Linked DNA regions of Homo sapiens. The protein of the gene in region 1 interacts with the protein of each later gene in a biochemical or structural test. Each region holds a gene or a part of one and is shown on either strand. Other genes may lie near its edges.

Evidence for each region. Proteins that work in one complex are often made in the same cells at the same time.
Region 2: the proteins of CTDSPL2 (region 1) and KPNA4 interact in a test that uses a peptide from one of them, tested with the Homo sapiens proteins (one study listed by BioGRID).

The regions. Positions count from the first base shown.
Region 1 is NC_000015.10:44,425,666-44,429,611, forward strand, and holds the start of CTDSPL2 (CTD small phosphatase-like protein 2), read left to right. Parts: upstream 1-1,963; 5' UTR 1,964-2,107; exon of another isoform or gene 2,108-2,228; intron 2,229-3,946. UniProt on the Homo sapiens protein: Probable phosphatase.
Region 2 is NC_000003.12:160,530,972-160,534,571, reverse strand, and holds part of KPNA4 (importin subunit alpha-3), read left to right. Parts: intron 1-3,014; coding exon 3,015-3,110; intron 3,111-3,600. UniProt on the Homo sapiens protein: Functions in nuclear protein import as an adapter protein for nuclear receptor KPNB1. Binds specifically and directly to substrates containing either a simple or bipartite NLS motif.

The sequences.
Region 1 (3,946 bases):
CTTTAGTAATAATGGGGTAACTGTTTAGTTGGTATTTTACTGCTTTCCATGATACACTCTGGATAAACTAATTATTTGTTGGATTCCATTGAACTTTTCAGGAATCTATTTTTGTGTGTGTGGACTGTTACTATTAATAGTTCTGTGCTGTGTATACCACCAGCTCCCAATAAATGTCGCATTCAGAGCATTTTTGCACTAGGAAGATTTAGGGTGCAAATGAACTCTGACAGAAGAATCTGTAGTATACAAGGTTTTCAGAAGACAACCCACCTGCTCCATACTTCGAAATAATGAGATTCACAACGGTATGTTATTTCTGCTTACTTCTCAGCCTCTCTTGCCATCTTCCCCCTGCCCTCCCATCCTCTTTTCTTAGCGCACAGAACTACTTCTCCAATGGCTCAACACAGTCTCATCTTTGGACTTTTCCGTCTGTTGTTTCCTTTACCCAGACACTCTTCCCCTGCAACACACACTCCTCCTTTTTGTCTCAGATGTTATCTTACGAAACCTTCCCAGACCCCCTCGCCGGCACTCTCATGTGTTTTACAACGCCTATCATGCCATCCTTGTATTCGCTTTATCAGTTTTTAAATTCTGTTTACTTGGGTGTCTTCTTCAATAGATTATGATCTTTGGCCGGGCGCGGTGGCTCACGCCTGTAATACCAGCACTTTGGGAGGCCGAAGCGGGCGGATCACGAGGTCAGGAGTACGAGACCAGCCTGACCAACGTGGTGAAACCCCGTCTCTACTAAAAATACAAAAATTAGCCGGTCGTGGTGGCGCGCGCCTGTAATCCCAGCTTCTCGGGGGGCTGAGGCAGAAGAATCGCTTGAACCCGGGAGGTGGAGGTTTGAGCCGAGATCGCGCCACTGCACTCCATCCTGGGCGACAGAGTGAAGACTCCGTCTCGAAAAAAAAAAAAAATCATTACCTTTGGGGAAGGCAGTATCCGTGTCTGCCTGGCTCACTGTTTTACCCGTCGCACCTAGTTATTTTTTCAATAAATATTTCTTGATTGAATAAGGAGAGTGGCTTGGAGTTTCAGTGAAAAATGTTCTTCCAAACACTAGGCTTGGTTTTCCGATACCCCACTAGAACTGGATTCTCTGGACTGATACATTTTCACTCTGTGGAGCTGACCGTCCTTTGACCTAGGGTCGCAGGTGGGAGCCCACTGGCCTGAAAGATCCGAGTTTTCAACCTGCAGAATCACCGCCAACATAGGGTTGAGTCGAAGGGCATGAATATTTATGATCCAAAAGCGACTGCTACGCCCTCTAGGCAATGAGCTGGAAAGGGAACCTTCAAGGGCCACCGAAATCCCAGGAAAGGCGCCAGATTCGCTTTCTCCCGGCCTCAGGCAGCTCTCCCTACGAACTACCTCCTCCAGCGCGCCAAGCCGTTAGTCCCGCCTTATCCCCTCAGCTCCACCTACCCAGCGCGCCCACAGTTACTAAACCCTAGCCGCCAGGGTGCACTACGCGTTCCTAAGCCCCGCCTCCGGGGCAAGGGCGCGCTCCCCCTCCCAGCTCTGCCCAAGCAGTTCCGTTAGGAGCGGGAGGAAAAACCGTCCTTCGGGTCCCCGCCTCTCCACTCCTAACGCTTTACTCCCTACTCCCCCTGCGACCACTACACAGCCGGCTACGGAGGCCCCTAATGTACAAATATCCCCCAGGCCCTTGCTCATCCTGATAGGTTTTGTCCTTTCTTAATCGACCCAGTACTAAGGCCTTGTGTTCAGTTTTTCTCCAGGATTCAGACTAGAGAGTTTCTTCCGGCGTAAGGAACTTCAACGCTCTTCACGGAAGTAAAAGTGTTTTTTTGGTTGTTGTTGCCGTTGTGGCTGCCCGCATTCCTTCCCTCCCACCTCGCGGAATTGTGGCGGGAGGGGGAGGAGGAAGTCAGGGCGCCTGCGCGGAGAGGCCGCTTTCCATCCGGGTCCCTGTCCGTGCGGTGCAGCAGGTCGGTAGGCGGGAAATGGCGACTGGCTGAAGGAGCTGGTTCTGTTGCTGCTGCGGGGTAAGCGGGAAAGACACCACACATTGCGCAGTCGGGACCATCGCCGGAGCCTGAGGACACTTCTCTGTCGTCACAGTTAGGTAATCCCCTTCGTCCAGACGCCGCCGCTGCTTCCAATCTCAGTCCTCCTCCTCTTCCAGGGCCGTCTGCCGGGATCTCCTCCCCTTCTAAACCTGGTCCTCCAGCGGCTCTGGCGCCTTGGTAGGCATGCACTCTTTGGCGCCTCGTACGTCCACTGTGCGGAGCCGCTCCTGTCTGGACTTTCCCCTGGGAACAGAAAGGGAGCTCACTTCCCGCCAGCTTCACCTCTTAGGTTGCGGCCTGCGTTGTGATTTCTGGGGTTAGATTTCACTTTGCTACCCACCCCCACTCCGATCTCAAGTTCCTAGTCCCCAACCTCTGGGTAATTAAGTTAGAAGTTTAGCTTTTTTTAACCTTTTTGGCCCACCTCATGTTTTCAGCATTTCATTCTTTGGAGTAGGGTGCTTTTAGGGGGGCGTTGCTCTTATCTCAGTTCTTATAAACACCTTTTCAGAATCTGGAAGAAGGGATTTGACTAAGTTCTGTTTATCTTTTGTACTGTTAAAATCTCGAGTTGACATTGTTACTTTTTCAAATCGGGAGTGGTAGTAAAGAACAGTCCATGTGGAAGGCGTCTGGTTTCCACAGTGGTCAGTTAAAGAGTGAACCTTATTATCCTTAATATTCTCTGCTTTCTTTGGATTTTAAATGTCTGTATGGGTGTTTACTTTTGCATTCTTGACCAGAGTTCTGTGGTAAATAATTGCATAAGTAAATCTTGTTTATTTACTTCTCACCCTAGTGGTGGCTGGATGTGTGAATGATGTTAAACACTTCAGCGTACCTTAGGGAAACCTAAAGAGATCTAAGAGCTCGTAAACTTACCTGAGATCCTGAAATGAAACGTACTCAGTAGATGTTCCTCCGAGGCAGGGATTTATCTTCCTAATGCTGGTAACGCAGTACCAAGATGAATTTCTTCAGTGGGTATACAAATTAGTGACTTGAAATGATGGATTTATCTGTGTAATTTTCAAATTGTAGATTGCTTTGTCTCCCCATTCTTCGCCCAGTTTTAAATTTTCGTTCCTGGTCCATTTTTTATTCTTAGAAAAGGGAAATGGCGTGTTAAAGCTAGTTTTACTATATTTCTTTACTTTTTCTTTCCTTTTTTTTAAATTACATTGCAGACCAATTGTTCATAAAGAGAAGTAATAAGGAGGCTGTTGGTGTTTTCGGAATTTATTAATCATGTTGAATTTGGGATCTTTGTAGGTTTTTTTGTTTTCACTAATCAAATTAAAATTTTAAAAACTGTTCACATTGAATATCAGTTGATATTTATAACTCAGGTTTTCAGTTCTGGATAGGTCCAGTTTAGAGAATTTCACTATTGTTTGCACGATGTTATGGTTAATTTTCAATAATAAACAGGAACACACAAACATTATTATAATCCTCATTTGGTAGACTTTGCCCAAGGTCATAAAGAAAGTCAAGGCAAAAGGTAGCTCTTATGTGAAGGAGTTTTTTAGGATTAAGTTGAGCTTCATACTTTCCTAAGGCGAATAGAATAGTGGAGGTACAGGCACGTTAACTACTTGCCGAGTCAGTTTATTTAAAAAATGGAGCCAAATATGCAACTTAAAGGGATCTTAAATCATTGGTCTAGTGTGTAGGTTTTGTCTGTATTTTAATGACCTTTTTGGGTAGTTAATAGCGTTAATGTTTTTAATAAAAATTAGTTTGCAGCTAGCTGAGTGAGCATTGTAGACCTTGTTTTCAAGAGTTCTCCTAAATTGTTTAGTACTACGTGCATTCAGTACTTGCACTCTTTTAATGCTTTCTCAGAGTTGAAAGAACGTATAAGCTGGCTGGGTGGGGTGGCTCACGCCTGT
Region 2 (3,600 bases), on another chromosome or scaffold:
TAATTTTTGTATTTTTAGTAGAGACAGGGTTTCACCATCTTGGCCAGGCTGGTCTTGAACTCCTGACCTTGTGATCCACCTGCCTCAGCCTCCCAAAGTGCTGGGATTACAGGCGTGAACCACCATACCCTGCCTGTTTTGCACATTTCTATTGTAAAACCTATGCTCTCATATTTTAAGGGAAGAGGCAGAAAAATCTATTACTGAGACCTTTGTATTAATAAATAGGTTGGGGAAGACATGGTTGTATCATAATGCAATTTAGTGGTTGCTTTGTATATTTATGAATATAAGAATAACACCCTATGTTGAGTTTATCAGTAGGAAAGAGACAAGTAAGAAACTGATCCTAGTTACAGAATTTGAAAGTGGAAAAAGTTTGTAGGTCTATCCAATACCTTATCCAGTGCTGCACGAATCTGTTTTATATTTATTAGACTTTTCCAGTATTTGTTTATTCACCTTAAATAACTTAGAACTGATAGGGAAGTTATAAAATTACAGTATTGTGTACCAGAGGTAAAAGAACTTCTTAGAGAGGAATTCTTTATGTAGGCAGAAAAATCTCAGAACCATTCACATTGCAAAATAGCAAATTAATGTTTATAGGAAGAATGATTAAGAAATCGATTATGCTCACCATTGTCAGAGTTGAATATTGGATAGTTTTGGGACAGTTCTTCTCAACATGCAATCTGCAAGAAAATTAAAGCCCAGTGTACCCTAAGAGGTTTTCAAAGTATGATCTGTGGATCACTGGGAGATTCCAAGACAATTTCATGGGTATGCAAGAGCAAACTGATTTTCAAAATAATTCTAAGACTTCATTTGCCTTTTTTTCACTGTGTTAATGTTTACACTGGTATTGCAAAGCAACTGTGAGTAAAATTGCGGGCTCCTTAATGCAAATCAAGACAGTGGCACCAAACTGGTTTTATATTATATTTTGTAAAAATTATATTATTCACCATTATGTAAAGAATAAAAGACATTTCTCTTCTAAAATATCCTCAGTGAAGTGTAAAAAAAATTTTTTAAATTAAATTTTGACCCTTGATCTCATGAAACCTTGTTTGAGAAGGCTGGGTTAAGACTTCTTCGAAGTGGTTTTTTTTTTTTTTTTAAATTTCCACTTAATGCTAAGCACTGTGCCATGTGTTGAGGAAATAGCATGTGGTATAATTCTTTCTCTTTAAGAACTTTATAAGCTAATTGGAAAGGCAAAACTGTATTTTAAAAAATAGGGGGCTGGGCGCGGTGGCTTAACGCCTGTAATCCCAGCAGTTTGGGACGCCGAGGCCAGGGGATCACTTGAGGTCAGGAGTTTGAGACCAGCCTGGCCAGCATGGTGAAACCCCCGTCTCTACTAAAAATATAAAAGTTGGCTGGGTGTAGTGTCACATGCCTGTAATCCCAGCTACTTGGGAGGCTGAGGTGGGAGAATTGCTCGAACCTGGGAAGCAGAGGTTGTAGTGAGCCAAGGTGGCACCACTGCACTCCAGCCTGAGTGACAGACTGAGACCCTGTCTCAAAAAAAATAAGTAGTGATAGCACCAAACGTAGGGCTATGCTGTATAAATCCTCTTGAAATTCAAAGATGGTGTTATGTAAAACATAGAACTTGAAATGGACTTTGAATAGAGTTTGAATACATAGAAGACCGGGCATTTCAAGTGAGGGGTTTAGGATAGGTTCAGTCTTATTTCAGTTGAAATGCTGTGACAGACAACTAACCTATTGTTTAGTTACACAGAATAAGATTAGTTATAAGATGGAGCCAACTTGTGAAGTAGTTTAAAGCTAGGTCAAGGAGTTTACATTGATAAAGGTAGTAAATAAGCAGCCATCACATAGTTTATATAGGGAAATGATTTGGTTAAGCTTTCATAAACATTGCTTTTATATAGTAATACAGGGTGTTCCAGTGGGTAAAGATATGATTAGGCCACACTGAGGACTTATCAGCTAAACCTGTAGTCTCCCACATGTGAAAATAGACACTAGGTTTTGTTTTTATCTTATAAGCTCCATGAGAGCAGTGATGTGTCTGTCTTTTTTACCTCAGATTCTCTAGCATCTCTCTGGCTGTTTTCCTATCAGTTGCTGTGCTTATTCCATTTCTCTTTAGTTGCTGAGATGAAAATGTTGTTGAACTTTTATGGCCTTAAATTTGGTGTGTAAAGTAGAAGGAAGAATTAGGGACTAATATCAGCTATAACATATTTCAGCAGACTACCTGCTTTTGTCATTTGACTCTCTTGTGACCTAGTGTGAATAATTTTGGATATTTTGGTGACCTCTTAATTCCTTTCTTAGCAAGGTAAAAGCTGTGTTGAAGAAATCTGCCCATTTTTTTCTCTGAACTCAAAATTATGTCCAAAAGTAACATGTATTTTTTAAAAATTAGTTTTCTTTTTATAAGTCACAATCAGGACTTTACTGAGGGAATAATAATGTTGTACCATTAAAAGTAGTAAAGTGGCCAGGCTCCGTGGCTCACGCCGGTAATCCCAGCACTTTGGGAGGCCAAGACGGGTGGATCACCTGAAGTCAGGAGTTCAAGACCAGCCTGGCAAACATGAGGAAACTCCGTCTCTACTAAAAATACAAAAATAGCTGGGTGTGGTGGCGCACGCCTGTAATCCCAGCTACTCAGGAGACTGAGGCAGGAGAATCACTGGAACCCAGAAGGCAGAGCTTGCAGTGAGCCAAGACTGTGCCACTGCACTCTAGCCTGGGCAACAGAGTGAGACTCCATCTCAAAAAAAAAAAGGTAGTAAAGTGGTTCATATCTACATTCTTATTTTTCTAATTATTTGTCATCTCTATAAATTTAATTTGTATATCTTTTTATAAATTTAGAGAAAAGGTTGCATTATATAAATTGTTAATTTCAGAGAAGGCACTTGTACCAAATATTCAGATTTATGTTAATATTTGTCAAATATGAATTTATATTTAATCATAATATTGTATGTTATTAAGTTTCACAGGAGTGTTTTTATCTCTTACAGGAAGCTTTTGTCCAGTGATCGAAATCCACCAATTGATGACTTAATAAAATCTGGAATATTGCCCATTTTAGTCCATTGTCTTGAAAGAGATGACAAGTGAGTACATTATTTATTTTTTTTTTTTTAATTTAGAATGTATCCTTTGGAGAAGACAAGACTCTAGTAATTAGTTTGATCTTTAAAGAAAGAAGAAAAGGGCTATGGGATGGAGTTGAAAAGTCAAAGTGAAAAGCAGTGCAAGGTTTGTTAACACCAAGAGATGAAGGTAGTAGCCAAAAAAGGAACTTGAGAATGATAAATTTAACTTTTATGCTTTGAAAATTGGCAAGAACTAGTTTGACCAGATAGGTACTTGAGAAAACTGTTTGGGGAGTAGTATGCAAGTATCTTAAAAAAGATTTCTTACTAAAAATCAGGATGCTGGAGGAGGTTGTATGCTTTTTATACTGAAGAGATGTTTTAAACAGTTGTTGAGGGTTAAAAAAATATGCTGGATGGATAGATAACTTTTGAAACAAAATATTTAATGCATTTTAAATGGTAGAAGGAAGAATGGTTAGATATTTGGCCCAATGTAAAAATCCCT